3 separate regions of the Homo sapiens genome follow, and all the other regions are linked to region 1. The links come from fine-mapping of genetic effects on gene expression. A gene starts in region 1. Each other region holds a variant in brackets. All regions are shown on one strand. Distances are from middle to middle. Region 1 holds the start of ARGLU1-DT (ARGLU1 divergent transcript). Region 2 has its middle 220 kb from the start of LINC00343. Region 3 overlaps LINC00443 (long intergenic non-protein coding RNA 443).

Region 1 (11,011 bases):
TGATGTGATGGTTAATATTAAGTGTCAACTTGATTGGATTGAAGGATGCAAAATATTGTTCTAGGTGTGTCTGTGAGGGTGTCGCCAAAGGAGATTAACATTGGAGTCAGTGGACTGGGAGAGGGAGACCCACCCTCAATGTTGGTAGGCACCATCTAATCAACTGCCAGTGCAGCTAGAATAAAGCAGGCAGAAGGTGGGAGAAGATGACTTGCTGAGTCTTCTGGCCTCCATCTTTCTCTCATGTTCGATGCTTCCTGTCCTCGAACATCAGAACCCAAGTTCTTCAGCTTTTGGACTCTTGGACTTACACCAGTGGTTTGCCAGGGGCTCTCGGGCCTTCAGCCACAGACTGAAGGCTGCACCGTCGGCTTCCCTACTTTTGGGATTTTGGGAGTTGGACTGGCTTTCTTGCTCCTCAGCTTGCCTATTGTGGGACTTCAACTTGTGTTTGTGTGAGTCAATACTCCTTAACAAACTCTCCTTTATATATTCATCTATTATATTAGTTCTGTCCCTCTGGAGAATCGGTCTAATGTAGATGGCCTTTCAGATATTTGAAAATAATTATCCTACTCCCTCTGAGTTTCTTTAATACGTATTTTTCTGTTTTTATCAAAATCTAACCCCTCTAATGTGTTCAGGTTCCCACCTCTTCTGGCTTCTCAAGGACTTCTCTTTCCTGTCTCTACCTCATTTTGTCAATCTCTCTCTCTCTCAAATACATTATCCTATTAGAACTATCCATCATCTAGGATAGTATTCTACAACTCTGCCAGATTCAACATCCCCCTTTTTAAAACAAATATTTTTGCTCCTTTCTTTCCCTCCAAAATGAAATTTGTTGACATTATATCTTACACACCTGGTAAAAATATGAATAAAATGCCTTAGCCATAATAAAATGGAGAAATAAAAGGTATGCAACATGTAATAGGATAATACGTTTTAATACGTAAATGCTTGGAACATGAGGTTAGTAGTTTCTGAAATGGCTCCCAGTTATCCCTTTGTGCCATTCCCTGCCTTTGAGAGTGGGTTAGACCTAACTTGCTTCTGATGAAGAGGGTACAGCAAAAGTGATGGCATGTCCCTTCCTTGATTGCATTATAAAAGCTGTGACTTCCATCCTCTCTCTCTACTCCCCCCACACACCCTGTTTTCTCTCTGGCTCTCCTTGCTATTCTGATAAGGGAAGCTGCCAGATAGAGAGGCCTATGTTGAAACAAACTCTGTGCAACCTCGGGCACATTGCCAGGGAGGATCTGAGGCCTTCAGTCCCAAAGTCTGCAAGAAACAGAATCCTGCCAACAGCCACATGTGTGAGCTTAGACATGGATCCATCCCCAGTTGATTGCACCTTTTATCAGAGCCCCTGAGCCAGAGAAACCAGCTGAGCTGTACCTGAATTCCTGACCTACAGAAACTGAGATAGTAAATTTTGTTGTTTTAAACCACCAAATCCTTTAAGATAATTTGTTACTCAGCAACAGATAACTAATATAATCCACAATGAAGAAGTGAGATGCTTGCATCTACTCTTAGAGAATTATTTGGATATGAGAGGCGTAAGATCAGAAATCATTCTCAACAGAAAGTTCAGGGCAGAGAAAGAGCAGAGAGCCAAGTAGACCCTGGATTAAAAGCCAAGGTTAGGTTAAAACTAGTTTTAGGATAACCAGAGTTATTCCAATATTTATTTTAAAAAATCATCCCTTCTACAGCCAAACAATCTTCATGGCATTTATTCTAAGTTAAAAATCTTAACTAAGAATAAGATCCTTGATGCTTTAGTTCCCTGGATGAACACTGTGATTTGTTTATAGAACCTACATGTCTTCCTTGACAAATGCTATGATATTAAAAAATGTATATCCTCAATGCCCTTTTAAACAGTGTTTCCCCCCTCAAATGTGTGAAGTTTTGATGATAACTCCACTCTTTCCTTCTCTGCTCAGCCTCAGGATGTTCCATCTGCCCTACTTGAATGCCTGAAGCCCTTCTTTCTCCAATGACCCTGAGGAAAATCTTGAAGGCGTTTCTTAGTCTGTGGATTTTTTCTCCACAAGGGTATAAAATAAGAAGATGAGGGAAATAACCTTAACTGAATACATGGTGATATGGTTTGTCTGTGTCTCCACCCAAATCTCATCTGGAATTGTAGCTCTCATAATTGGGAGATAATTGAATCATGGGGGCAGTTTTCCCCACACTGTTGTCTTGGTAGTGAATAAGTCTCATGAGATCTGATGATTTTATAAGCGGTTTCCCCTTTCACTTGGCTCTCATTCTCTCTTGCCACCACCATGTAAGACGTGCCTTTCACTTTCCACCATGATTGTGAGGCCTCCCCAGCCACGTAGAACTGTGAGTCTATTAAACCTCTTTTTCTTTATAAATTACCCAGTCTCGGGTGTGTCTTTATCAGCTGCATGGAAACGGACTAATACACATGAATAGCACGTCAAGACAAATGTTACAGACTGAATGTTTTGTTTGGACCTAAATTCCTGTGCTGAAGCCCTGACAGCCAATGTGACCGTATTTGGAGTTGGGGACCATAAGGAGGGAACAGGGGTTAAAAATGGTCAAGATCCATGAGGCTTAGAGAGACTAGAGAGCTCTCCCTCCTCTCCCAACCCAGGTGCACACAAGCAAGAGATCATATGAGCACTCAGTGAAACGGCTGCTCCTACAAGCCAAGAAAAGAGGTCTTAGAATAAAACCTAATTTACTGGCACCTTGATCTTGGACTTCCAGCCTCAACAACTGTGGGAAATACATTTCTTTTGTTTAAGTCACCCAGTCTGTGATTTTTTTTAATAGCAATTTGAGCAGACTAAGACAATAGGTTACAGACTCAGGCCATTAAAGTGACAAAAATGAGGAAGTATGGTAATCTTATAAATAAGGGCAACCTTATTATTTGTAAATATAGATAAAAAGAATTTTTTGTTATGATGTGGGTCAGAGTGGTATGGAGTGTCATAGAAAACACATTTCTTTGCAACTCTACCAGGTTGTAGACCATCCATACATTCAGTCCTAATTTTGGACGAGATTTACAAAAGTTGTGTAGGACAAAGGGTTATTTCACCTTTGCACATTGGCATGATATCTGGCATCTCTGGCTCCTCACTACTCAATTCCAGTCATTCCCCTTTAATGATTTGACAATCAGAAATAATCCCATAAATTTTCAAAACTCCCTTCTGAGTGGTGACACCCCTATTGAAAATCATTCCTCTATTATTTCTTTAAAATTCATCATCAACTGCTGTCAACTCTACTGTCAAAACAAGTCCTGCCATTCATACATGATTAGTTCATGACCGTGAGCAAGAATCTGCCCTCAGTTCAGTGAGGGAGCATGAGATCTAGTCCTAAATCAGTCAGTGCACTGTATTCATCTGGTGACAATAGCTAGACATGACCCAATCAGAGCCAATGACACATAATGGAGCTTTTGATTAATAGCTTGGGAGACTCTGGTCCTCCCAGCCACCTCGAATGACAGAGGCTGTAGGTATGGAGCTGCTTAACCATCTGGCGTGTTGCAGAGCCTCCAGTAAAAACCAATCCAGTGGAATGTATAGTTGGGTTTCGGTTCTCTTTGTGTGATACTTTCCCTGCATTAAGTCATGCAAGATTTGAAGAGGAGGAAACTATATTCCTGCTTTATAGTCAGATTGGGGGACACCTAACAGCATGGTGCAGGAAGAGCTTGTATATGGAATCTGTGACCCTAGTACTTCCATATAATATTTTCTGCACTTTATCAATCACTGAACCAGTTATATGCTCCAAAGGTTACATCTTGTACCCTGAAGGGAGGAAAGAAGAAGAAGCAAATTTACACACAGGTACACAAAATACCTACCCAGTTCTAATTATTTTGTTTATTGTCTGTCTCTCTTCACTTGAACATAATCTTCATAAGGCCAAAATTTTCTACCTGTTTCGTTTATTGCTATACTCCTGGTGCTGAAGATGGTGGGATGAGGGAAAGGTAAGCCTTGGCTTCCTGGTTTTCTATTTGCCATCTAAACAGTATTTATCAATATCCACTTCCTTTCTGCTTTTTAACTTTTTATTATGAAAAATTTCCAATATATACAAGGTAGAGAAAATATAAGTGAAATTCCTTGTACCCGTTACTCAACTTCATAATTATCATGGCCAATTCATTTTCACTTATATTCACCACAACTCTCCCTCTTTGCTTCTCTAACTAGATTATATTAAAGCAAATCTCAAAAAGCTTCTACACACTTCTTTTAAAAAAATTTTTATGGGTACATAGTAGGTATATATATTTATGGGGTACATGAGATAGTTTGATACAGACATGCAATATGAAATAATCACATCATGAAAAGTAGGGTATCCATATCCTCAAGCATTTATCCTTTGTGTTACAAACAACCCAATTATACCATTGTAGTTATTTTTAAATGTATTTGTACATTTTAAATGTATTTTAAATGTGGTTGTATTAATTTACTTTCCCACCAAGTGTATGAGAGGGTCCCCTTTTCTCTACATCCTCTCCAGCATTTGTTATTGCCAATTTTTTGGATAAAAACCATTTTAACCAGGGTGGAATTATATCTCATTGTAGTTTTGACTTGCATTTCAGTCAAATGGACCATTGGAACCCAGATCAGGGCTGAAACTCCATTTATTTCCTGGCCCACAAGCACCCTACTCCAATAGAGGGCCCTAAGGAATCCCGAGTTCTCTGGGTGTGAATGTCAGCTCAGGCCCTGTGTCCAGCATTTCTCAAAATGTTTGCATATTCTGCTTTTCCACTGTATAGTTGTTTAAACAAGTGACCACAGGCACATTTGGCAAAGAACCATTGGAACCATAACTGTGTTCCCTTGCCATGGGTGCTCCTGAGAACCTGACCTCCCTTTGAATTAGTGGATTCTGGGTCAGATAAACTGACTCAAGGATTAAGATCTGTTTTATTTCTTCTTCCATCATCTATCACACACTTGTGGCATTTCATCTTTACTTAATGTGGGCTGTAATTTTCTCCAAAGTTCCAGGAGTCATCCTAGCAGTGTGATGAAAACATCTCCCAGAGTCCTTGCCAGGGTGGCAAATCATCTATTACAGTAGACTGTGCCCATATAAATAAACTCATCATTTTCCAACTTCATGCTTCCCCTGCTTTGATTCATCCCCCTCATTCAGTCCCATGAAGAGTCTCTGGCTTTGGCCATTGCACGTTGGCCTGCCGCCTTTAGGCACATGGTTCCTTCCTTTGCTCAGCAGGCTCTGCATTTCCCCTCCACATGCTGTCTCACTTGACTCTAGTGATGGGTCTGGTCAAGGCAGGAGGTGGGGGTGGGTCCTGAGGAGCACTGTGTTGTCTTGCAATGCAGAGATTCCTATACCATGTTCAAGCAAGGGCAGAGCACAGCCTCTCACAGGGAGGTCAGGGCCACCTCTGTAGGCCCGGAGGGCTCTGAATGGAGTGTTGAGGTTTTGTTTTGTTTTGAGATAGAGTCTCACTCTGTCACCCAGGCAGGAGTGCAGTGGTGTGATCTTGGCTCACTGCAACCTCCACCTCCCAGGTTCAAGCGATTCTCCTCAGCCTCAGCCTCCTGAGTAGCTGGAACTACAGCCACACACTGCCACGCTTAGCTAATTTTTTGTATTTTTAGTAGAGGCCAGGTTTCACATGTTGGCCAGGCTGGTCTCGAACTCCTGACCTCAGGTGATCTGCCTGCCTGGGCCTTCCAAAGTGCTGGGATTACAGGAGTGAGCCACTGTGCCCAACCTCAAGAGTTGAGGTTTTGAGAGCATTAATTCTGTTGTCTCTCTCATCCCTAATAGGCCCCTGACATTGTCATAGCCATAACCAGACTAACCAGAGCTAAGAATTCAAATTTTTTTGAAGTGCTGCTATTCTTATAATTAATTCCTGGGCCTTATCCTTAGATTTTTCAGTCCTCCTGCTACAGGAGATGAGTCTCTTCCGATGCCTCCAGTGAGGCTTTCTCCCTTTCACACTTTCCTTTCAATGATGATTCACAGCCCTGAGCCTCACTTTGTCTTTCTCTAATGCCTCCAGTGACTCAGCCAGAGCCATTAGAGTCCATTGTTCTCAGGACTGGTAATTTCTCTAACTCCCAAAAGCCTGGGAGATTGCCATCTACCAGGGTATTCTCTCCCACCTCTTTCCCACCCCAGGTCATCACCAGTGAAAGTTCTGACACTTGCACTTCTCCGGCAAGCCAGGGCCGGGGCTTCACTGCCAGCCAGCAGGAGGATGAGCCAGCTCTGCAGTTCCACTTCAGAGTCCATCTTCTTGGATCACTCTTGGCACCAACTGTATTGAGTTGAGTTCTGGGAAATAGACTTGCAGGTAAAAATTTCCATGAGAAGTTTTTTGGGGAGTGATCTTAGTGCTTATACCTATAAAGGAGTAAACGCGGTAACACTGGGCAGAAGGAGATGTTGAGCTTTGTTGCAGTTGCAGCAGAGGAATCGGTCAATCTTGCATGGAGTCTGACCTGGGAGGGCCTCCCAGAGCTGTATCACCATGAGGCAAGGGGCCAGGCCTCTGCATCCCACCTTTGTGCACCAGTCATTGGATGCAGCTGCCCCTGGGATGGTGCTATGAACTTGGGCAGGGTGGCTGTCTTCAGCTGGGAGCCGTTTCCAGGAAGGGACCCAGTGGGGAGCCCTGACAACCACCCCCCAACCCACCAACACTCTCAGCTGTGGAGAGGATGACAGCGTCTGCCTGGGCATCACAGCAGCCACAACCGCCCCTTTTTCACTCCTTTTAATCTGTCTGCCCCCTTTTATACATTTATTCTTCCAAGGTTTCTATTCTCAGGCTTTTTCTTCTTGGGTCTGCCTTTCTTTGGGGGGATGGGGCTGCGGGGAGTGTTGCATCTACTTCCTACTACAGATGCTGTGCCCTGTCCTCGGATCTCCATGATTCCCACCCACTGGTTTATCCTTCTGTTTGTACCAGTCCTCTTTGGACTTCCCACCTGTTTGCATCACCTCCCCAACTTCCCGATTCGACCCCCAAGTCCTATATCTGTACGATACCTGTGCATGCCTTGTATGGAAGTCCCCATGGCTCGTACGTTGTGGATCCAGGCTTCTGTACTTCAGTTCCCAGCACCAATATCACAACCTGTTTGGAAGTGGACATGCGTTAAATTCGTGCATGTTCCCTACTTTTTGCCTTGGTGTCTAATTCTGCTCTCTCTTTCCACCCCGCCCCCCTACCTCAGTCCATTATCCACAGCTCTTACAAAGCTACCAGAGGAAGCTTTCTAAAATATGAATCTTTATTCATCGAAAAATATTTATGGAACGTTTGCAGTGTCCCACCTAGGTTATTTTCTAGGCATCTGTGATGAACAATACAGTCAAAGTTCCTGCTCTCACAGAACTTACATTTTAGCCGGAAGACAGGCATTTAAAACAAGCGAATGAATGGATAGATGCTATGCTAGGAATTAGAATGGTAAGATAGCATGAAGACATGGCTGTTTTATAATAATATCAGTTGCCTGATTAAAAATTGTCAGAGGTTTCCCATTGTCTTCAGGGGAGAGTTCAGACTCGCTTGGCACAAAAGACTCCCATGGAGAAAAGTTCTGGGCCCCTGGTGTGGATCAGATGGCCCCTTGAACTTGGTAATTTGGGTGGCTGACTCTTCCAGGAGGCCAGTCCTTCTGCCCCAGTGGCCTTCCTCCTGGTCTCCTTCCTTCCTCCTCCCGGGATCCCTTCCCACTGGAATAATGTTGCTTTTAACCAAAGTGACAAAAGCCCAGCTGGCCTCAGCAGGTTTATTCTTGTCAGTGTCTCAAACCAGACAATGAACAATCCATTTCAACAGGGACTTTTGCCACTATTTCTGGGAAACGTGGACTGTGACATGACTTTTGGAAGAAGATATATTGTTTTTAAGCATGGAGGTGCAATGCTGATTTCTACTGAGGCTGGGCGCTGCGGCTTGATTTGCACCCACACAACACTCCCTCTTCCTAGCCCAGTATCCCCTCCCCCCCGCCATTTTATCTCACTGAGATTATAGGAGATTTTAAGCAAGAAAACAAAATGAAACCAAGCACTTTATCAGTAGGTTACAGGTCAAAGGCGATAAGTCCTCAAAAATCCCAGTTCTCAACAGGAACCTGGGACTTTTCACTGCACTCACTGCAGAGGTGAGGAGATGACAGAGGAAGCAGAAGGTCCCTTGCCCTTGGCAGGCTCCCACCAAGCTGCCATTACTTATGGGGCCATCTAATGAGGGATCTGAAGAAATTGATGACGGACCCCTAAACATCCCTGAGTCCAGCAAATCTCCTCCCCCTTCCTTCCCGCATTGCCGCTCCTCTTCTTTTTCCCTTTATTTGGCGTTATGTTCATTGCCTTTCCCCCACTTCTCTCTCTTCCTTGGACTCCTGCAGCCCGGGTCACTAACTTAGCTTTCACCCCCCCTAGTGGTAAGTAAGGCAAATCACCCATTTGCTTGTTGGTTCCAAGAGCTACAGCTACACGCGCTCTCATAGGGGCTGAACAGATATAAAATGAGAGAAGACATCTACTTATTATTTGAAGGAGGTTAAACTTTTATTTTAACCACAACAGATAGTCCCCAATCTTGAGATACTTATTCTTTATTATTTGATTATTACATACATAAGAAATTACAACTATAGTGTATCAATAGAATTTCATAATGTGTACAGTCAAGCCTTTTAGGTATTTTCTATTATTATACATAAAAATATAGTTAATGAAAAATAAAATCATTTCTCATTATACCTGAGGTGTGATGTAAATGAAGTTGATACTGTAAGATTGATATTAGTCACGGTGATTGCCCTTTTGAGTGAAATCAACATGCTGTACTAAAAAAAATATAGTACAATATTAGGGTTTAGCTTGTATTTCTGAGACTGGAAACGGTCTTAAGAGGGATGAGGTGAGCTGCTGTGATATGCAGAGGCCTGGGAAGACCTTTCTGCTGCTAAAAATTTTGCCCTGACTCATGTGGCCTTGGGCTAAAATCAAATGTTCACATTGATAGGAAGGCATCATAAAAATAAACGAATTGTCAGCTCTTTCTCCTTTCCACTGTTAAACCTCTGCAAGTTTAACTCTGAGCTGCTGGAAGGAGGGTGAGAGGTAGTTTTGTAAGGAACTGGGTGGATTTTCATAATACTGGGATGTTAAAGAGCAGAATGAGAAGTGTGACAGAGAGCACGGAGCACTTCAGGAGGTGGAAATGGTGTGTGATACTGTAACTCCAGCTCTTGTTGGACACAGCTTTTTAAAATTTGTATTTCATGAGTCCTAGGAAAATTCTTCTTCCCCAAATGGCAGTAGTACAGATCTGGGGCTGAAAGAAAGGCCTTCATTCTTTTTTTTTTTTTTTTTAATATGTAAAATGTTAACTCATTAAATCCTCCCTATGACATTATGAGGTAGGTGCTATTGTAACATTCACTGTGCTGATAAACTGAGACAGAAGAGAAGTTAGGTAACTTGCTCAAAGTCACTTAACAAGTAAGCAAGGGGTGCGGCTTCCACCCTAGCAATCTGGCCCCAACATGCGTGCATTTGCTTATTCTCCAGGGCTGCTCTTCTAGCTGGAGGATCTGGAGCTGGAGGTCAGAACCCGCAGCTTTCTGGCCGAAGGACATTAAGCCAGACAACTCAAACGTGTTGTATTGCTCATACTTTGGGTTTACCATGATCATGTAGGCAACACTGATTGATGATCAGTGCAACTAGGTCTGAAACAGGATATTCTTGTACTGAAGCTTAGTTTTATGCAGAATTACATCTTATCCTTCAGATTCTAAGCTTATTTCTGCACTGATAAGTTGGCATCTCGGTGGCCTCAGTTTCTGTGGGTTTTTACCCGGTTGAGATGAGAATATTCCTTGCTCCCCTAATGGATTTCCATTTAATTTTCTTAAAACAAAAACAATACTGTTTTTTAAAAGAAAGTGTTTTCATGCAGTTTAAGTGTTAAAAAATCAGTTTAAAATTTTCACAGCAGCAAGAGCAGGAAGAACTCAGGTTATATGGTCTTGACCACACTTGCCGGCATACAGCGTACTTTGTCCTGGGTGGGTGCTGAAGAAAAATGGAGAACAAAACCAACTCCATGACTGAAACACAAACTCAACCTTGCACATGCAGCAAATAGGTTGAGTTAAAAGAACAATGAAAGAGAGCTCAGACTCATTCTTGTTTTAGTGACTTTTTAGGTTTATTTTTTTCCAACTGTGATTTTATCCAGAGTGTTAGTATAAACTTATGTGGTTAGAACTGTTACCAAAGGATAGGAGATCTAATTCCAGATCAACCAGTGAAAGTCGGGTAGTTTTAACCACCAACATCTGCAACAGCTAAATAAGATCCATGTTGCTTCTGTTACACAGTGTTTCCTACTGTATTTTTGAAAATGTGCTCAATTGTCACATAGTAAAAGCAAATATTGAGTAGCTTCTGAGGGACAGTGGTACTTTTAAAAAAGTGATCCCAACTCCTATGTTCTTTAGAAACAATTCAAGTAAACATATTAAATAAGATTCCAAACCTTTCACCTCTTATTACTGTTCCATCTAAAATTTCATCCATTTGGAATGAATGGGGAGATGGACAATGTCCTTGGAAAGATTGTAAGTCTAGACGGGGGTAGCTTAGTTTCATATTTTTATATAAAAAAAGCTTTTTGCTCACAAAGCCAGATGGTAGACGGAATTGCTCCACTTAATGCTGGGAGCTGTTCATGACAGAGCATGCACTGGGTATGCTGACAGAGATGAATGCTTTGGAAAAGGTTTCCACTGAACACAGAAACTTGATTTGCAAAGGAGGAGAGACTTTGTCCATTCCCTAAGTGACCAATCTTTAAGAATGGCTTTAAGAATGATGTGAGTTGAAAATTAAATCTAAAATCATAAAATAAGTAATATCTTCCTGTATACTTACACATTTGAGGGTATGATTACTA
Region 2 (11,011 bases), 690 kb before region 1:
CCTTTCTCAGGACACACTAAATATACACGAGCACTCGGTATGCCTGAGACCTTGACTTAGCCGCCGACTGGTGACACCCACTCTGGTCCCAGAGTCTTCTGCCCCAGCAATGCAATAAATCCCAGGGCTGTTCAGCTAGCTGGGGACAATCCACAGCCATCTTCCAGGCTTACTTATCCCTGTGTCTCTCCAGGAGACCAAATGAGTGCTATTAACCCGGGACATCTTGCTCAAACCTCAATTACTCCATCTGCAGGAAAGATGGATGTGGCATTGAGAGAGAGCCTGTGCGTGTAGAAACACTGCACATCCTGGGATTCAGGAGTACGACTCCTCCACCCCATTTGCACCCTATCCTAACTGTTAACTTACCCCATCTACTCTCCCTTGGGTCTAGATGCAAACTGATTAATACACCATGGTCTATGAAAAGTTTAAGTTGGTCTATGATTTTTTCTGTTCAGTCACCTGTGGGATCACTTTCTTAGGATTGTACTTATAGTCTACCAATGCACAGAGCGAATCTCCCACACGACAGCACTCTTCTAAAGCAGCTGCAGAGTTTGACCCTACGAACTAACCCTGACAATCAGACGCCATCCGACATCCCTGCTGTCCCCACCAATGTTGCTATGCTAATGCCACAGTGTCCTCTGATCCTGTTACTTGGATGACAGGAACTCTTAAGCCATACAGCTATTGCTAAAATTAACACCTTCTATTAATTGAGGTCTGGTCTAAGCCCTTTTTATCTATCATTTCATTGAATTGTCATGGGAAACCAGTGATATTAATGGTATAATTATCCTTCTCAGATGAGGAAGCTGATATATAAAGATAAAGTTGTCTTGATCAAGAGCTAAGGTCACACAGCTAATAGGAGGTAGAGCTTAAACGCAATCTGAGCATTGTGGCCCCAGAACCCTCACTTTAACTCCCACGTTCAAGGCTGTCTGTGGCCTTCGTGCTTGGCCTGTGAATTGTACAGTCTCTTAATGCACGTGACCCTCTTGAGCCTGTCAATGAAGCTCACTTTTTGTTATCTCCCCCACACCTCAGTGTACTTTGGATTTGAGAAAGAGACTATTTTAAAGGAGAGATCAGCAGGAAGCTAAGGGAACTGCATCTCAGGCTGGAATAAGGCTTTAAATTAAGAATAAATGCAAGATTCTGAGTTGTGTCCAGTGGTTAAGCCCTGGACGAAGGTGAGGGCCGAGGCAGTGTTCCCCTCGAAAGCTGCTCTTTGCTCTACAGTTCTTCACCACTGGGGAAGCTTAAGGGTAGATGGAATGAAAAGAGACTTACACTGTCACATGCAAGAGATTTAGGAAGCTTCATAAGAAATTGTTAGGAGGTCTTCATTTCATCTCAATTAGATCCCATTCTGTTCTTTCTAATCCTGCTCCACAAGGCTTTTCCTGTAACTTCACACATATGATCGTATTTAGTCCACATCCAATCCTGTAATGAGGCAATGACTCTATTTTACTTTATTTTTTCATTTTTATTGTTACTATTTTTTTTTTCCATAGAGACAAGGCCTCACTATGTTGCCCAGGCTGATCTTGAACTCCTGGGCTCAGGTGATCCTCCCACCTTGGCCCCCCCAGTGTGCTGGGATTACAGGTGTGAGCCATTGCACCTGGTCCCTGTGACTCTGCTTTAGAGATGAGAAAATGGAGGCTCAAAACTTGCAGTAATAGCCCCAGGTTACAATGCTGATAAATCATAAAAGTTGATTATGATACTGGCCTTGATGACAGCAGGATACGTTCTTTCCATTTAATCTCATCACTGGTGAGCCTACACTGATAAGAAATTCACAGTCATATTGTCACACTGCCTTTTCACCCGGTTCTATAAGGCACTCCCTGGCAATGAGTCATTCCTGCCTCAGCCCTTCTTCCGGAAGGAGGGGCTTGACCGGGCAGAGCAGCGGCTGATTTCCCGGGAGATCAGAAAGATGCAGATATGAGCAGGAGAAAGGACAGGAACTGGAAACCCGTAAACTGGGCAGAATTTAAATGCTCCTTTTCTCTGAGAGCGGTCCATTTTTACACATTGCAGAAATTTTCTCTGCTCCCACCTCCAAACTCACTCACAGTCCTTGATGTTTTTTGGCTGCATCAGCATATCCAGCAGTCAGGTTTCATAATTATCTTGTTGGTCACATGTGGCCCACATTTTCAGACATTCCGGAAATACACCGTGTGGTCTGTGCATCCACACACCTAACAGATCACTCGGGCAGCGCCGACCTGCAGAGCGACTCACCTCCCGTGTCATCTACCATCTGTGCTTACCTTGTTGCAAGAGGCAAGAAAATTCAGATGACATGGATTTGTTCCTGATTAATAGAACCGTAACCATTAATGAGCACAACTAGCACTAATATGCTTTTAAAACAGGAGCAAATTAGGCCTCTATGTGGTTGTAATATGTTATCAGCTAATTGATCGTTGCTGTTTTTTGTGGATTGTTAAAAAACAATGTGGATAAAACATGGTGGGAGGGATTTTAAAAAACAATGCGGATAAGGAGACTATCTATGAAATAAACAAATGTTTAATTAAATTAAAATTGTACAATTCTTTTCACTTGTTAATTTTTTTAAGAAATCCTTTGAAAGAGTGCTTCTAATTAAAACCCAGATCACTGGACCCTAAAGTACAGCAAAGGGACTTCAGGAGACTTTAAAGTGACTGCAGGAAGCCCAAGAATCCATATAGATTGAAAGTCGTAACCACCTTTGGCATATTTATTACCATTTTCACATTTAAAATTACTATTTTCAAATGCAAATTTTCACTGAACAAAATGGAAATTCATATGCAATTGATACTGAATTCCTAGTAACTTTTGTTCTTAATCATTTAATTGATTCTTTTCTAAAAGTACACTTTCTTTTTTAGGAAAAAATCTGAGAGAAAAGGTCATTACAAAGTTGTCCTCCCATTCTAGGGGTCTGGGAACCACTGATCTAATCAGGTTCTCTTTTTCTGGTATTGCACCCATTTGAGTCACGAAGAGTGAACTTTTGACACAAGCTGTCAAGATTTCCTCATAGACACGAGTGATCTATATCTGAGTCAGCCTGGGATTTCTTCGTTTCTTCCTTTGCCTTTGGTATTATTTGTGCAAATCAGCATTGTAAACCATTTTCCAGTGAGTTGTAATAGAAACCCAGGGCAAAAGGTCACTTCCGTTTTGGAGCCTCCCTGACTCTGCAGAGTTGCTCCCTCTGTCCTCTGCCCCAACACAATGCCTCATAATCCCCCTATTATACCCCTCAACTCAAAGCTCTTCTACCAGCTGCTTACATTATCTCCAAAAGAAAAGGGAAAGCTGAGATCCTGCTCCTTGGGAGAAGGTAGCTCTAGATCCAGAATCCTAAGTGTAAACATGTTACAGTAATTACAACATAGATGGCATCTACCAAGCACTAAATGAACCACAGGTAATACTGATCATTGATAAAAGTTAATTCTCTTTACACCACTTCTTCTTGATTCTGGCCCTTATAACATGATTTAGAGACATCAGTAAATTCAGAGGGTAATAACACTAAGCATGGAAAACAGTGACCCAGGAGAAGGCCATGGAGTAGGGATGGTACAATAGGAGAATGAATGAAGAAGATACAGGCTTTTCTAAAAAATGGTGAGGAAAGTGAGGCAAGAATCCTGGAGGCAAGTTAGGCAGGTGGTAAGAAGGGTAGCTAGTGCATATGATATCTCTGTACTGTTGTTAATGCAAGTACTAACTTATTCCATTTTCTGAAAAACACAAGGACAAATATACATTTAATTTCTCCACATTAAAGACAAATAAGCTTACACTCAGAGAGGTAAAGTAAGTTGTCCTAAACCCCACTCACAATTAATGAGTGGCAGAGGGTGATTCGTATCCAGATGAGCCTGATTTTTGAGATGCACCTTGAGCCAGGACAAAGTGGACATGGACTTACCTTCCATATCACCCCCGACGTCTTAGTCCACCACTCGGCATAGTACCACAGGTCTGGGATGAAGAACAGAGACAGAGGAGTCTGAGAGAGAGACTGGGGAGGGGTCACTTCTGTCAGACACATTATATTATTAAGTAGTTTTACATGAGCTTAATCCCTATGGCAAATGTATTGGAAAAGTATTACTGTTATCCTCTTTTTGGAGTCCTCTTTTTTTCTTTTTCTTTTTTTGAGACAGAATTTCACTCTTGTTGCCCAGACTAGAGTGCACTGGTGCAATCTCGGCTCACTGCAACCTCCACCTCCTGGGTTCAAGTGATTCACCTGCCTCAGCCTCCCAAGTTGCTGGGATTACAGGCATGTGCCCCCATGCCTGTCTAATTTTTTTGTATTTTTAGTACAGACAAGGTTTCACCAGGTTGGCCAGGCTGGTCTGAAACTCCTGATCTCAGGTGATCTGCCCACCTTGGCCTCCCAAAGTGCTGGGATTACAGGCGTGAACCACAATGCCCGGCCAGAGTCCTCTCTTTGAATTGAACTGAGACACAGAGGAGTTTATTGACTTCCCTAATAGCACACTGGAAGGGACTGGTGGAACTGCTTGTTATCAGGAACTACCTTATTTACCTTTATCCATCATATAGCAGGATGTCTGGCTTAAGATTAGTGTTCAATAAAGCATTCTGTAAATTGGTTAGATAAGAAGTTCAAGGGCAGACACGCCCTGCCTCTACAGGCAAGACCACTGGGGCTGAAAAAGAAGACAGGCAGGAGACGAGGCTTTCTCCCTCCCTCCCTCTTTCCCTCTTTCCATTTTTCTCTCCCTTCCCTCTTCCCTCCATTTCTTCTTCTGAAAATATATACAGAAATTGGCTTTGTGTGAGACGATTTTGTTCAACTGCAGGCTAAGTGTCCTTAGCACGTTTGAAGAAGGCTGGGCTAAGCTATGATGTTCAGTAGTTTAGGTGTAT[T/C]AAATTTATTTTTAACTTACAATATCTTCAACTAATGACGGGTTTACTGGGAGGGAACCCATCTTCATTCAAGGACTATCTGCACGGAGTATCCACTATATGACAGAAACTTCAATAGAAAACCTGAAAAAATGTAACCTCGCTTAGCCCTCAATAAGCTTGTAATAAAATGAGGGCACACAACTATAGTCAAACAATTAAAATGCAAAAATGTCATGATTAAATAATATTGAGTTTCCCTCTGTGGGGATACTTTAGATAATGCTGAATGATGAACAGAAATTGGAAGAATTTTACAAAATGGGTGGAAGACCTTTCACACTGGGAGAACACAGGCATGAGGCAAAAACTGTGTGAGACAGAGGAAGCACAACTCTTCACTATGGCTGAAGGGAATAAGGAGTATGGGGTAACAGTGGGGTCACTGGGCTGTGAAGAGTATGGTACCTGCCAGGAAGGAGTCAGCACTCATCCTAAGAAACTGAAGAATGCAATCATGATCAGATTTGTATTTTAGAAAATCCCTTTAGCAGAAATAGAAATAAATGGTGGGAAGAGTGATTTGGGACAGGGAGATGAATCGGGCTATGTTTCTGTTAAACATTTGGAGTGAGAATAAGCAAAACCATGGGATCATTCTGAAGCTCTTCACAGAATATTCAGGTTTATGTAATGATGCATAGTTTAAAATCCAGTATCTAACATGGCTAGCATGTACAGCCTAGAGAGGCATGTGCAATGCAAATGAAATGTTAAGATAGAAGAGAAGACAAACATATTTTACTTGTAATGGAAATCATTTCAGATTATGTCCAGTTTTGTCTCAGGCTATCTCTCTGGGACTCCTTTCTAATTAGGGGGGAAAGGGGGGCGGGGGGGGGGCGGGCAGTTTTAGAAGTCCTAAGAAGGGAATATTGCTGTCATCCATAGAAGAAATGATGAAGATTTAAGAAAACGAAAGTAGACATGGAGAGAAATTGATGAATTCAAGTAATACCAAAAGGGTAAGATCAAGAGGACTTGGAGACAGTAGTGTGATGAAAGAAAAGAAGAAAAGAAGTCCAGGGTAACTGAGGTTTCTGCAGGAAACGTGAGAGCTGGAAAAAGAGCTGCAGATGTGGAAATGAAGAGGATGATCACGGTTGTAGTTGTACCAAGCCAGAAGTGGCCATGGGGCTCTGAAATGAAGAAACGATCAAGATACAAAATAAGAAGTCATTGCACGCATTGACAATGGAAGCCTGGGTGTGAATGAGGCTCACCCAGGGAACATGCACACAGTAAGGAGAGAAGAAAGCCAAGAGGTCTCCCAGGAAACATGGATATTTTAAAGATAAGCAGTGGAAAATGAGGCAGCAAATGAAATGAAGAAGGCAATTTCAAAGAGTGAGGAGAAAAGTCAAGGAGATGGATGTTATGGACATAAAGAAAAGGACACATTTCAAAAAGGAGGAAGTCAACCCTGGTAAATGGTGCCCAAAAGTCAAGAATGTTCTCTTGCTTTGGCCCCAGGAGAGTGAGAATGACCTTATGCAGGTAGTTACACTGGCGCATGCCCCGACAGAGGACAGCACTCCAAGTTTCAGTGAGCACCATGAGAAAGGAGAGCAGGACTTGACGGGTCTACTGGGAGGAGGGCCAACCACGGAGGGTGTTCATAGTTACAAACGTAGGCACTGCCTGTCATTCCACCTAAAAGGCCATGCTCAAGAGTCATGTAAAACACATGAAGACTGCAAACTTAATTGATAAATGTTGTGTGGGTTCTGACTGCTCCGCCAACTGTCTGTTTCTCCATCGGCTCATGAGGCTTAAGGAAAGAAGCCATCTCCATAACACAAGTGTAAGGCAAAGCAGCAAGTGCTGATGTAGAAGCTGCAGCAAGTTATCCAGAAGATCTAGCTAAGATCTGATGAAAGATCAACATGCCAGATATAATAATGAAAAAGTTTGAAACATCACGAGAATCACCAACAGGTGACACACAGACATGAAGTGAGCACATGCTGTTGGAAAAAATGGCACAGATAGACTTGCTTGCCACACTATTGCCACAAACCATTAATTTCTAAAACATGCAACTTATGTGAAGTGTAATAACGTGAAGCACAATACAGTGAGGTATGCCTGTATTTGACTGACCCGGGAATTCTGGCCTGTAGCTTCAAATCAAAATCCCAGGCCAGGCATGGTCGAAAACACACACACACACACACACACACACACACACACATACACGAAGGTATATCTTGGTAATTTTTCCAATTTATTTTACGTATACTTTTTTCTTTTAAAGCAGAAGGATCCACTAAAGACTGTTTTCTACAGTGCTCCTCTGAGAATGCCAATTTACTACTGCAGTGTTCACTGAGTGTTCCCCAGACGAGGCATCAAAGGATGACTTCTTGTTTAATCTTTCCAGACACAGTTTTTTTTAAAGTAGGAATTGTAAGTAATTCTGCCCTTATCCCTAAAATAATACACTGGGAAAATTGCATTCCTACATTTGCCATTGTTATTCAGTGCTGCGTAAGTTTGTGTTCACTCTCCCTTACGAGTGTCTCCTATCACTAAGCTCAGCCCATTTAAAAGGTGTCAGGAGGATGACCCACCATGAACTGTGCTGTTTTCCATGCCCCAATGACATTGATTCCATCAGTGACTGTCAGAGCTTGGATGGAGATCCAGTTTATGTCTAGTAGCACAAGTAGCAAGGAAGGCCATGTTACCAGTGCCTCCATCTGGACGTGTAGTAAGTGGCAGAGCCCTTTCTATTTCATCATAGTGGAGGCTGCGACTGTCTTGGGCACCAGTGCTGTGGCTACAAGGAAAGAGTTCTGGGGAGTTATTGGTGATACCCTATTCCTGGCTGTTTTTCAGTGTGGTATTAAAATTATTGATATACAATAATTATTTCTCTTAGTTATAAAAACTCTTTCTTTCTCATTTAGAAGGAAAACTACAATTGCTTCTCTTGAAATTGAGTTCTAATCAATAGTATGATTCTTTGCTGTTTTCTTAGCAACTCAACAAACCTTCAGTTTTATCTGGGTTTGTTGTACCATCTACAACTTACTGTTGCTTAACTATCTCCATCCTTCACACACACACACATACACACACACACACACACACACACACCCCTATACGTGCATGTGTGGCCCTCTTGCATCTAATAGAAAGTACAATGTATTTGTACATTTCAAAGGTAACCACTAAAGCATGATTCATGAGGCATTATTGGGGATCTCTTTGTCTTTACTATGTTGTAAAGGTTGCAGTGGTGCTTATGCAATTTGGTTCTATTCTTGGCATTGTAAAGTCAGTTTAATCTCATTCTCTACATCTGGAGGCTTTTGCAGAGCAGTGACTATTACATACTTAAGAGGATTGATATGACATGAATAGTGCTTGAGCGATTAGGTCTTGGAAGGGGATTTTGTGGGTGTGTCTTGCTTTCCTGTTCTATCATGCACTCTAGACCTCTGTAATACCTTTTTAAATAACTCTGACACATCTTTTGGGATCTTCCATAGCTTTTTTACATGCTTTTTTAGTCTTTTTATTAATCTCCTTACATAGACTGCCTTGTTCTTTGCAGACCATTTTTCACCAGGGAGCTGTTCTTTATTTTCTGTTTTCCATGGTCTTCTCATGTAGTAAACATTCCAGAACCCACTCTTTTCTTTTCTTTTTTTTTTTTTTTTTTGAATTTAAAAATTTCCTTTTTGGGCATAATGTCAAATTCTAAAAGTTTTTCAGGTATTGTTCTTAAATTCCTCCAGGGAGTAAGTGATAACTTACTTTCCTATATTTCCTTCACCTAAACTTGAAAAGTGAATTTCATTTTCCCTTAAGAAATGATTATGTTATTTCAATGTTTTGAATGGGATATTTCTGGACTGATACCATCGTTTCTGCTGGTATTTTTTTTCTGAATGCATCTTTTTTTTCTGAACTATTTCTGAATTACTCAATGTGTTGTTTCCTCATCAGCATATAAAGCTGCCCAGACTAAATGTGTCTAAGGCTGAGATGTCAATGTTTGCTTTGCATCCACCTTCATACTCATAACCTGGCAGGAAACATCATGTGAAAATACTCTTTATAAGGATATTAATTATTAATATATCTCTCAACTCCACTCCATGCTAGTTTCACTCAAAAAGCAAAGAGATTTAATGCTAAGGCCCCTGAGGCAGTGAGGGTGCCACCTCTCAAATTGTGATAATCTTGTCGACATTTTGATATTGGTTTGCAAGGAAAATCCCTTTTAGGTGATGCTTTTGGCAGGACAGTGACACAATAATTTGTACCACACAACCTCCCAGGTAAGAGGGGACAGAATGCCTGTGAAACAAATAAGAAGATTAAGTTAACATGGGAGTTCCTTCAAACAAAATAACTCAGTGACACCCAGAAGTGTCAGTGGAAATTCAGGGAGCACAGGTTTTCAAAGAACTTTTGTGTCAGAAAGGAGCTTTTAAATTTGAACAGCTCAGGAATTAATAAGATCTGGGCCAACAAGCTTTGGCTCTATCCAGACTGCTTGTGTACTGACAGCTTTCTAATGTGGAGACAGAAAAGCTCTGGGCCTGGAAAGGGAGGCCTGAGCAGACTCAACTGAATCCTCAGGCAAGGGAGTCTTGACATGGTGGTGTTTTTGACCAATTGTGATGAAATTTCTGTTTATATTATAGCTTTGAGGTTTTAATCTTTAGAAATAAAGCTGGATGGCTAGTATTTATTTAAATGCATTTTCTTCTATCTAGAGCAGTGGTTCTCAACCAAGGGTGATTGTGCAGCCACTTTCTATGAGATATTTGGCAATGTCTGGAGATGCCAACTTGGGGGAGGGGAGCTACTGGCGTCTACTGGGTAGAGACCAGGGATCCTGCTACACATCCTATGATGTACAGCCCAGAACTCCCCAACAAATAATTATCTATTCCAAAATTTCAGTAAGTCCAAGGTTTAAACACCTTTGTTTAGATCAATGGAATATACAATTACGTTTTTTTAACCTCATGATAGTCAAAGATGAAAGCATAAATTAATAATCAAAAATATACTTTGCAGTAATAATTTCTGTTTCTGTACAAATCCTGAGCACTGGTTTCAGTTTCTGCAGATCCTCAGCTGATGCTTACTTCAATTGGAGAAAGAAAAGAGCATTTCGTGTGAGACAGTAATTTCACAATGAGACAGGGTTTTCCATTCATCCATCAGGCCTAAAGCAAAACTAATTTTGTAGTAAATTGTATTTCTTTATTGATTTTTATGGAATCTGTGCCGATTATAATAAAAAACTTAATAATGTATGTAATTGTTGATTGTTTTCTAAAATATAATTATAAGCCAATTATTCATTCTCACACAGCATCAAATAACAGAAACAATGAAAGTAAATCCTAAACTTCCTCAATCTAAATTGCCATAATTTTTAAGGAACACAAAAGGAAATTTTTGTTTTTGTGTTTCTAGTGGAAACCTTGGAAGTTAGGCCTAAGCAATGAAAATAAGCCTGACTTCGGGTACCCCTTTTTCATATTTGAGAGAAGTGTCTTAACTCAGTAATCGATAATTAGCATAAATCTTTGCATGGAGATGAAAATGCATACTCTCTTTTTAGTTTTTAAAATGTCTAAATTGGTTATTTGCTAACTATGAGATTCATTCTTTTTTCTTTAGCTATTAAATGGACAGAAACAACATGGGTACTAAAATGTTTAATTATTCTGTATATTTAAAAAAAAAGTGTCCATTCAAATCAGTCTTCACGTAATGCCTTGATACTACAACTCTCCTCAAAGACTTGGATGTGGTCTTGGCCTCTGTCCTTCCACAGCAGAGTGTGGGTTGGCTGGGAAATCCCTTTTGGGGCATGGAGCTGACCTCAAGAAATGCACTGTGGGTGTGAGTGCAAGGGCCAAACAGTGTGCTTCCTTCTCCTTACTTAGTTTTGAGCCTCACACTTTCCCAAAGCAGCTTTTTCCATTTTCTCTGTGGGGATTTTACATAGGGACATCTTAAAAAACTACTTCTCTCATACAATTTCCTGTCCATAATACCT
Region 3 (11,011 bases), 56 kb after region 1:
AGGAATAATTAGTACTTGTGATGATATTGCTCTTTAAAATATTTTTAAATATTTTAACATATTATTTAAAATGTAAAAATATTATAGTTTAGCTACAGCCACCTTGTATATTGTATTCTTTAAAAATGCAATGAGTGGATGTTAAATACTCTCACCAAAAAATAGCTGTGTGACATAATGTATATGTTAATTAACTAGATTTAACTATTCCACAATGTATATATACTTCAAAATATCATGCTGTACATGATAAGTACATAAAATTGTATCTGTCAGTCTCGTAAAAATTAATAAACAGATTCAAAAAAATTATATTTTGCATTTTAAACTTTTATAGAAAAATAATTTTATTTACAAAAATTTATAAACATTGTGCAGAGAGTTTTCTGTGCTCCTCACCCAGCTTCCTCTATGTTCACACCTTATATAACCATAGTACAAGTAGCAAACTGAGGAAGTGAATGAGGATATGAGGCTATTGGCTAAATTACAGGCCACATTAGAATTTTGCCAAGTATTCAAACTGTCTGTTTTCCATTCCAGGATCCATTTCAGGATCCCATATCAAGTTTAATTGTCCTGTCTCATTAATTTCCTCCAAATTGTAGCCATTCCTCACTTTTCTTGCCCTTCATGTCCCTGACAATTTTGAGGAGTACGAGTTGGTTATTTCGTTGAATGTCTTCGACCTGGGTTTAATGTTCCTTTTATTTTCCAGGGAGGAATCTCCCAGTGTTTGTGCCATGTTTTGATCTGACTGAAAGCCATAAACATAGCCGAAGCCTGGGCCATCCACAGAAGACCCAATGTTCTCTTTTTCCAAGTGGGCATTTTGTATCTCTGAAGAGTTCTAGACTGAGCTACATCAGTAGACCTCTGCATTTAAAGGGAGCAATTCTCATCCGAGGATCCTGATTCTTCTACTGTAGTGCAATTTCACCACTCTCTCCAAATGTCTCCAAGCAAATTCAAAGCAGCTGAAAATAACTGCATGCCTGAGAGTGAGAGAAATTTCTTAAGTGATCGACCAAATCTGGGTCTGATTAGTGGGTGGATGCCTCATTGGAGAGGCTGATTTGAGAGTCGGGGTACAAATAATAATGGCTAATAATGGCAAACAATTAGTAATTGCTAGGTGCCAGGAGTTGTGCTAAATGCTTTACATGAGTAGATAGGATATTGCAGATCTCAACAGTTAAGAAATTTGCTTGTGATCATGTAGTTTGGAGAGTATCAGAGTCTGAAATGAAGACAACTTGAGGGTCAATAAACAGGAAGAAAAAGTACTCTACAAGACAGTTTATCTGATAACGGTATGATGGAAGATGGCATCAGGCGGAGGTAAATGGGACGAGGGACTGGAAGAAAACCACTGAATCAAAGACTCTTGGAGTTGAAAGTTTCCTTAGCAACTATCTAGATTCATTAACTTCTTCACAGTTGAGAGATTTCTGCATTATTTTTCTTCCATAAATAACCAATCTCTGCTTAATTTTTTACCAGACCACCCCATCTACTCCTGGGCTACCATTACCATTCAAGTCTTTTCCCTTCTTTTGGACTAAAAACTACTTTTAAAAATTGTCATCCATTAGTCACAGTCAACCTCTCTGGAGTTAACAAGATAAATATGTGTCTCTTTCATTTGACAATCCTTCAAGTATTTCAACATAACTATAACATTCTCCTTAAGTCTTTTCATTTCTATTTGCAAGTTCTTCAGCTATTTTTCTTACAATATAATTAACAGTCCTTTTGCCAAGCAGGGTCTCTATTATTTAGTAAAAGGCAGGCAAATACTGGAAGACTATTCACATTTGAATTTGACAAAAAAAAACAAACGAAAGCCATTTTACAATTAAGGCAACTTAGATGTCAGGACAAGAAAACTGTAGGACCAGCATTAAGTAGTCAGTTGAGTGTGGGAACATAATCCACAGGAGAATCTAGTGTGTATAATGAAAGTCTGGAAAAATTCAGTATAATATCATTTCAATAACTATTCCTTTTAAGATTCCCCTTAGAAGAACACATAACTTAGATGTCCTGAGGACAGAATCTGGAGCACATCTGAGCATTTATAAACTGGATTCTGCCTGGCACTTAAAATGTTTTCCTATTTAGGAGATTTAATTGTCAAATGAGGCTTTTATCTTTTGATCCTATCAACTGATATCCTGCAGAAAACGCTGGATGATGGATTTCTTTGGAACACACGATCATTCTGTAATTTTACCTTTCTTTCCTTTTCCTCTGTTTCTTTACTTGTAACTGAACCCTGAAATAGAACTTAATCTGTCAGCTGCACTCTACATTTGTTCTTTTTGCACAGAAAACACTATTATTGCAGATATTCAAACTATACAAACTATACATTTTTCTTAAAATTCAACATAGTTGAAATAAAAAGGTTTTGCAAATGTATTTAAAACTCTTCAGTGCTTACTATGCTGTTTTTACATAGTATCTTTTAGTAGGAAAAACAGAAACATGGCGAGGTAATGTCTCTTTTTTTTTGCCTAATGCTAATTAAATAATCTGTAAACTTAAATACTATCAAGATTTTGAATCAGCTGAAAATCAAACTGAGTCATTCATAATTTTTTCTGAATCTTGATATTTTTGCAGTTATTCTGCAGAGTGTCTTGAAATGCTAGAAGCTGTAATAATTTGTGGCTATTCTATTTCTCAAGGACATTAGATAGAAATTTCAAAAAAATACTTCTGTTCATAAGACAGTGAGTTATACCCATCTTTAGGGAGGTAAAGTAGACGTTTTGAAATGCTTTTGAGATTTCAGGAGCCATGGTAAAAAGAATAGAAGCAGTTAGATTCTTAACTCTCCCTAAATGTGTTATTATTTAACAAAAATAGGAATTGATTGAATAGTTTTGAGTCTAATTACCAACAGTTTACTCCATTTGTGTTTTAAAATGGGAAATGTATCTTGATTCATTAATGGAAATTGCTTCATTTTGTCCTCCATGAAACATGGAGATGTTAAAGTTTTATCATAATACAGTTGAAATTACTTAGTAAGATGAAATTACTAATTTCCACACAAATACAACGCTTACTATTTCATTACTATTACTAGTAATTTTCATCTTTCATTTTAGTAATTATATGGTCTGCACTATATAATTCTTTCTTTCTGAAAGAATACTCATCAGAAGTTATATTAATACTTTGAAAGGTTTATGAAAAATAAAAAATGAAAGATGCCCAGCATTTTTTTTCTGGTGTATTTTTAGCAAGATCAGATATCATAGAATTTAAATGAAGAACTTTGCTCTACGTAATTAGTCATTGATCAAAGAAACGACAAATTTTGGAATGAAAATAGCAAATTCAGTTAAAATATTCTGCAAAAATACTTCTAAAATTATTTTTAAAAGATAGTTGTTAAGGCATAGGACTAGTACTCTTGGATACTATTTTTTCTAGGTGTATCATATGAGTATTAATAATTCAATCTGAAACAAATCAGTAAGCTTTCTAGTATTGAAATTTTCTCTTTTGCTTTCCTACTGTGTCACCATCGTACTGTTTTGTTTTACACAGTGAGAGCATAATTTTCTTCTACAGGGACCACGAAGCTTCAGGCCAGCCCTGTCCCGAAGTCTTCTGTGCTTCATGTCGAGTGGTCTGCAGTGGACTGTGTCTGCTTGAAGCGATGCTCCGGAGGGCTTATTGTTGTGTGGGGTAAAGCATGAGATCACTGAAAAATGAGAGAAATCGAGCATACGAAATGTGAAGCATATCTGTTGACACCATGCGCTCCCTTTGCTTGCACTGGATGGCGCATGGTTTCCGTGCGCAGTGCCTGAGGTGTGGGGCAGGCGAGGCCCATGCAGCCTGGCTCCTTTCCAGAAGGTTGCTGTTCATTACAGCTCGAGTGTGCTGGGTTCTGCAGATATTATCTATTTTAAATTAACGCTCCGTAAAAGGAATTTAAAGTTTTCTGAAAAGAAACCAATGAATGAAGCTAATAGTAATAATGCAAACACAAGCAAGCTGCCAAGTAAGCCATTTTTCTATTACGGAGCCCTTCATCAGTCATATTATTAAAGAAAAAACAACAATACTAGTAATAATGATCACCTATTCAAGACCAAGAGGTTGATCCTCCAAAATTCAAACAAGGAAAAATCTCTCCCAATCTCTCCTTTCCTCCATCCCTTTTCTTTACTTCTCATCCCATATATAATATTATATAATGCATACGTAATAAAAGACATTCACTATTATTAGCAATGATTCCTTATCTGTATATTGTGCCTTAAGATATATTAGCAAATGGTGTGCATATTTAGAAGACTTATTTTTAAAAATAATATATATGTTGGGGTAAAGGGTCAACCCTTTATTCATTGACAAGCGAGGTTATCAAAGAAGTCTGGACTCATTTTTGCTCTTCCAAGTCTAAATATAAATTTTGGTTTATAAAGGATTTCATATGGTTCCCAACAGCACATTGTAAAAATTCAACTCTCTGCCTTACTAGTTATTGAAGTCATCTTACAGATGGCCACAATAAGTCCCTTCTTATTTATTTTTGCCAATATAATTTGTAGGGTAGATGTATGTAGTTTGCTTGATTCTGACCGGAAATCTGTTCTGTTTCCTGCTTGACTGAAATTTGGGGCAATGGAGGCAGCAGAAATATGCAAATATAAACCTGAGTTACACAATGGGCTTTGGTTCAGTGGATGAATATTATTTAATTTTCCAATGTCATTGTAAGAAATTGAGAGATGAACTTGAACTTTTAAAACTTTGTGGACAAAATATCATCAATATTAAGGGAACAAGTTTCTTAAACTTTAGAAGGAAATCAATTCTAATGTGTAGTTAACCAGATTGTTCATTGTTGGGTTTATCATTAACTTGGTCTTTACCTCATTAACTTCCCTCTGTCTTATTGTTTATTATGCTGCGTTTATTTTCTCTGTAATCAAGTGTAACTGTAGCATTGGGGAGAGTATTAGATTTTCTATAGATTTGGGTGTTTCATGTGCAGCAGACCACGTGCTATTTTTGCCCGAGCAGCTCTTGTTCACCTTTGTTCTGGAGACAGAACTCTCCTTTAATTTTGGAAACTTCCCCTCCTATTACTGATAGGGCTGTCAATCGCATGTCCCCCAAGCCTCCATCAATGTGATGGCCAGGGACTTGTGTGGGTCACAGACTCAAACCTGAACTTCTGCCGAAGATATCAAGAAGGAGAAGCCCTCTATTTACTGAAGTCTCTGACTGTAATAACTGAGTGAATTGATATCTTCCAGCAGCCACTGTAGCACCACAAAAGGAAGGCTTGTCCAGGAATTAAACCAACACAAGGAAAGCCCAGACAAAGAGGGAAGGATGGGCTCATGATGTTTGAACCTCTGATCTGTCTATGCCTTGAGCCAGCCACACTGCAGGATGCTGTTGCTCCAGCAATTAAATGTTCTATTTTTGTTTAGGTTAGTTTGTGTCAGTGTGTGTCACTTATTACTAAAATGTTCCTGAGATAGACAACACTGTGGAGGGAAGATCATATGAACTTAATGATTTGACCTAAAAAATGGCAATTTCTTAGGATTCAAACCAATATAATAAAAAATGCAGGTGGTCAGATGACTCAAGAACCATTGCTTTGTGTTCTTGGCCTCTTTGAGCTTCAGTTTCCTCATATTGAAAGGAGA[GAGAT/G]AACTGTCTACCCACGCATCGGTTCACACACAGAAACGGGAAATGCAGGATCAGGTAAAGCATAGAAAAACCTTTGTAGACTATCTGGCTCTATAAAATGTTACCTATTGTTACACATTGGAAGATCTGATTCCTTGAGATATATTACAGTGTATAGAGTGAGCTTACTGGTCATGCTTAGGAAAAATTTTGGAATTGGTAGCACATGTGAGGCTGTGAAGACTTCAAAATTTGACTGCAGATGTTATAAAGTCCTGTGTTTTGGCAGATAATCATCTCCCCATTTAGAATTCACAGGACTCATCTGGCATCCGGTGGAGTTGGTAGGAGCTGATTAATGCCTGGCTTCTAGTGGAGATGATGAGAACTGGTCAATGTAAGTTACGTTAGGATGGCATTGTGGACGTCAGAAACCCAAAAGAGGACAGAAACCCAAGCCTAAACAAAAATAGGACATTTAATTGCTGGAGCAACAGCATCCTGCAGTGTGGCTGGCTCAAGGCATAGACAGATCAGAGGTTCAAACATCATGAGCCCATCCTTCCCTCTCTGTCTGGGCTTTCCTTGTGTTGGTTTAATTCCTGGAAAAGCCTTCCTTTTGTGGTGCTACGGTGGCTGTGGAAGTTATTACAGTCAGAGACTTCAGTAAATAGAGGGCTTCTCCTTCTTGATATCTTCGGCAGAAGTTCAGGTTTGAGTCTGTGGCCCACACAAGTTCCTGGCCATCACATTGATGGAGGTTTGGGGGAGAAGTGATTGACAGCCCTATCAGTACTTAGTCTATGTTGCTTTTAGCCAGTACAGTTCATCCCAAAACAATCTTCTAAAATCGGTACTCTAAGCTTATCACATGGATTAACAATTACTAAGTGGTTCTATGAAAATCCCAACTGAGTTACACAGGCAAGATCCCAACCCAAGATTGTCCAAGTATAAAACGGAGGCTCAGTTCCTCATTTTGTTACTGTTGCTTTGAAAAGTAAAGACCATCTAGCCCTTCTGCTGCTGCAAATGAACTAAGAGATGAGGTAGGGTGCTTTGTGGCCTGTGACTGGTTGTAGTACATCCAGTCATAAGGGGAAATTCAATTTCAGGTTGGAAATCCTTATAAATCTATAGTAGTGTGTAAAGGAGTGTGGTACTTCTGAAAGTATAATCGCCATCTTTTTAAAAGGCCATTTTGACACAATGTATATGTGTGCATATGTACAAACTTGCTCACTAAAATGGACATACAGTAAATCTGGGCTTTGTAACTAGGACTACACGATACATAACTCAATAATTAGTATATGAGGTACTCTGAAAAATAAAAATGGTAAAATATATGGAAGACACTGCTTTAAAGAGATGTAATGGGTCCCATTTCGGAGAAAGAAAAACAGACAATAAATCTGTTGAATAAATACAGACTAAAATCTGGATAGAATTATCTCTAATGAGTTAATGGGTTAATTCAAAATAATATTTTAGACTTCCAGCCACAGGCTCAACAGATTCACTAAGTCTGTCCTCAGCATCAGTTTTCTGAATCTGTTCTATATTTATTTTAGTGGAAATTAGTGGAGAATTAAGACAGAACTAAATTACTTTTCCATGATGTGTACACTGCACTCATTCCATAAAAAGAGTTTCCTCAAAGTTTAATTTATCAATTGGAGTGTAAGATTAAAATAAAGATACTCTCTGGACATATACAAATATACACATATGTACACAGATATACATTTCTCTCTCATGAAGCTCTCCATGGTACTATAGGCATAGAAAAAATTATGTCACCAAGGACAGAATTTATTTTATAAAATGATTTCTGAGATAAGTAGTTGCTGAAGAATATCCCACTGACATTCTATGATATTTCAAACTCAGACTTAACAGACTTGGAATCTGCTTTTTATTGTATAAATCAATTTTAGCAGTATTTGTAAATAGTAGTAAGATGCCAAGATGTGAACATTAAAGACTTTTGAAAATATTCAGAAGTATATACAATACAATGTTTCAGATAAACATTAGTAGCCTTATGCTCAGCTTTGAAAAGAAAAAAATTCTTTACCCAAAGAAGAAATATTTTTACATTTTTATAAGTTATCTGTTTTTCATATTGCAACTCTATACTAAGCACTGGTTTTTCTTAATATTAATTAGATAACCAGAGTGGTAAAATAGATTTGCAATTTATAGAGCAAAGATTTGTATTTAGAATAAACAAAGAACTCTTAAAAATGAATAAGAAAAATTTAAATACCCAACGGGAGAAAATGGCAAATAGTATAAAAGAAGGAACCAAAAGCCAAGAACTGTTCAACCATACTAGTCTTTAGAGAGATGCAAAATAAAATAATAGCTTCACATTTATTCTGTTGGCAGATGAGGAGGTAGGCAAACAGGAATATATATACATCCCTGGTAAAATTGCAAAGTAGTACCACCTCTTTAAAGAGAAACTAAATAATATTGAATAAAGTTGAAGTTACCTATACCTTTGATTCAGTAACTTCACTTCTAGGTGTCTGTATTAATCCATTTTTACAGTGCTGATAAAGACATACCCAGGAAATTTTGCAATTTCCAAAATAAAGAGGTTTAATTGGACTCACAGTTCCACGTGGCTGGGGAGGCCTCACAATCATGGCAGAAGGCAAGAAGGAGCAAGTCACATCTTAGGTGGATGGCGGCAGGCAAAGAGAACTTGTGCAGAGAAACTCCCCCTTATAATACTGTCAGATCTCATGAGGCTTATTCACTATCACAAGAACAGCACAGGAAAGACCCACCCCCATAATCCAATCACCTCCCACCGGTTCCCTCCCACCACACGTGGGAATTATGGGAGCTACAAGATGAGATTTGGGTGGGGACACAGAGCCAAACCATATCGGTGTCTGTTCTAGAGAAACTTTTACACAAATGCACAAGAAGATTATGCAAAATGATCATCATTGCAGCATCGTATATAGTAGTAAAAAGTAGAAGCAACTTAAACATAACTTTTTAGTGTAATGGCCAAAAAAACCCCGATTTAATCCCATAATACAATAAATAGTATGTAGCATATGTAGAACTAGATCAGCATGGATCAAACTAAAAAATGTAATTAAGTGTAAAAGGCAAGCTACAAAGCAACTAAACAGCATAAAACAGTAGTGTAAATTTGTAACACAGAAGCAATAGCGTATAGACTTCATACACATCAGTTTTCTGAATCTGTTCTATATTTATTTTAGTGGAAATTAGTGAAGAATTAAGACAGAACTAAATTACTTTTCCATGATGTGTATACTGCACTCATTCCATAAAAAGAGTTTCTTATGCAGGTGAAGTACCAAAACAAGTCTGAGAATGTTACACACCACTTTCAGATTATAAGATGCCTCTGGGGAGAGAGAAATAAATAATAGAAAGGAAGGTCATTGCTTTAATTTATAATGTTTAGTTTAATCTCTTAAAAATAAAAGATCTGAAGCAAATACTGCAAAATGATAATATTTGTTTAACCTCTACATTTGGGTGTTACATTTTGGTGTTACATTACCTTTTCTATAGGTTTGAAATATATTATAATAATACAATACAAAATGTAATGAACTGGGGCTGGGCACAGTGGCTCACGCCTGTAATCCCGGCACTTTGGGAGGCTGAGGCAGGCGGATCACCTGAGGTCAGGAGTTCAAGACCAGCCTGGCCAACATGGTGAAACCCCGTCTCTACTAAAAACACAAAAATTAGCTGGGCATGGTGGTGCACACCTGTAATCCCAGCTACTTGGGAAGCTGACGCAGGAGAATTGCTTGAACCCAGGAGGTGGAGCTTGCAGTGAGCCGAGATCACACCACTGCACTTCAGCCTGGGTGACAGAGGGAGACTCTGTCCCCAAAAAAACAAAAACAAAAACAAACAAACAAAATGTAATGAATTGGATATTACTTCAAGTTGAATGTGTTAAAATATATTGTTTCACCTCTTTTCTTTAGCTTCCCCAGCCTATCCTTCCAAGGTAAGTCCTGAGCAAACCTTGTTTTGATTTGATTATAGAGGTGAAAGCTTTATTGCAATTAAGTAAGTGCATCACAGAGTGTTCCAGACATTGAGACTCACTTAGGAAGCTCCTGATCTGTCTGTAAAGGTCAATGCAATGGGAGTTGTAAAGAATAAGCTAGGTGCTATCCATGTTGGCAGATCTTAGGAAGGAGACATCTGTCCGAGGACCCAGGAACTACTTTTGGAGGTAACAGAGAGGGAAGAGTGTGAGGTCATGGGAGGTGGAGGTGCTTAACCTCATGATCCTGCATGATTTATGTGGCCAGGGAAGTTGAGGTATGCACAGCCCCCTTCAGCACTGGCTGGTCAGGCAATGAGCCTCTTCATGTGTAGGGTCTGGTACAAACAAACAGCAAACAGCACTTCACCTGCATGAGGTCCAGCGAAGATAAAGGCAGATGGACTGGGAGCATGGCTTCATGACCAGGAACTGCTCTGGGGAAGCCATTTCCCAGCTAGAAAGGTGAGAGGTGATTGTGACAAGTAAGGGAGCTGATGGTGTAAGGTGTAGTTTTGAGCAAACTCTGTCCGCTGCACTCTACCTCACCATCACCTCTTCATCTGTCAGCAAGTACAGCAATGGGCTGGGATGTTGTGGTTCTAGCAGTTCTACAGGTAAAGGCTCAACGGGGAATTTGTATTCGGCTCTGGGCTCTGATGAAGATGAGGCAGGATGGTTGGGCTGATAGCCTGAGCAACCCCACTGACTAGCTGTGTGGAGGAAATACCTCTAAATTGATGTGCCCGATTCCACAAGTGTATGGGATTTTTAGACACTGATTTTCTGTTTGTTCTGATTTCACAAAGTCAGAAGGTGGTACCTCATAACAAAAAGGGAGATGGAAGCCAATAGGTTCTGTTGACAAATTACATTTGATTGACATACAAAAAATTGCCTGAATTTTAGTCTCATGTGTTTATGAAACAATGAAGGGAACTAAATTTGGAAAATGTCACCCTCCCACCCTCCCAACCCCAACATTTTGTATATCTTTTCTTTCCAGCTTTTTTTTTAAATGGCAAAACCTTTCATTTGCTATATATCTAGCTATGTATTTAGTTGTTTGCAGAGCTGAGTAAAGTATTCATGATATCATTTCTTTCTAAAGTGAAGCATAGCATTCTTTTAAGCTGCATATCAAAAGGTAAACAAGTAGAGAAACTGCTCCTTTGAAGATTCTGCATGAGTCTGTTGCTAGTTAAATTTTCCTTGCAGAAATCAAACAGGGTTTCCTGTTGCATGTTTACCAAGCCCCCTTTTGTCCATAAAGTA

What was found. PIP is the estimated chance that this variant, and not a neighbour inherited with it, causes the effect.
Region 2: its variant is fine-mapped to the expression of ARGLU1-DT in iPS cells (PhLiPS, PIP 0.95).
Region 3: its variant is fine-mapped to the expression of ARGLU1-DT in anterior cingulate cortex (GTEx, PIP above 0.99).

Annotation. Positions count from the first base shown.
Region 1 is chr13:106,611,655-106,622,665 of GRCh38, forward strand. ARGLU1-DT (ARGLU1 divergent transcript) reads left to right here and starts at 6,156. Exons shown (of 4, transcript NR_051977.1): 1 at 6,156-6,379.
Region 2 is chr13:105,917,417-105,928,427 of GRCh38, forward strand. No RefSeq gene overlaps it. Among named protein-coding and RNA genes, the nearest start is that of LINC00343, 220 kb to the left of the region's middle. RefSeq lists an enhancer at 1,372-2,571. The variant T/C (reference allele first, on the strand shown) is at 4,939.
Region 3 is chr13:106,667,928-106,678,938 of GRCh38, forward strand. LINC00443 (long intergenic non-protein coding RNA 443) reads left to right here. Exons shown (of 3, transcript NR_047026.1): 2 at 719-1,001; 3 at 3,589-4,253. Among named protein-coding and RNA genes, the nearest start is that of LINC00443, 20 kb to the left of the region's middle. The variant GAGAT/G (reference allele first, on the strand shown) is at 5,691.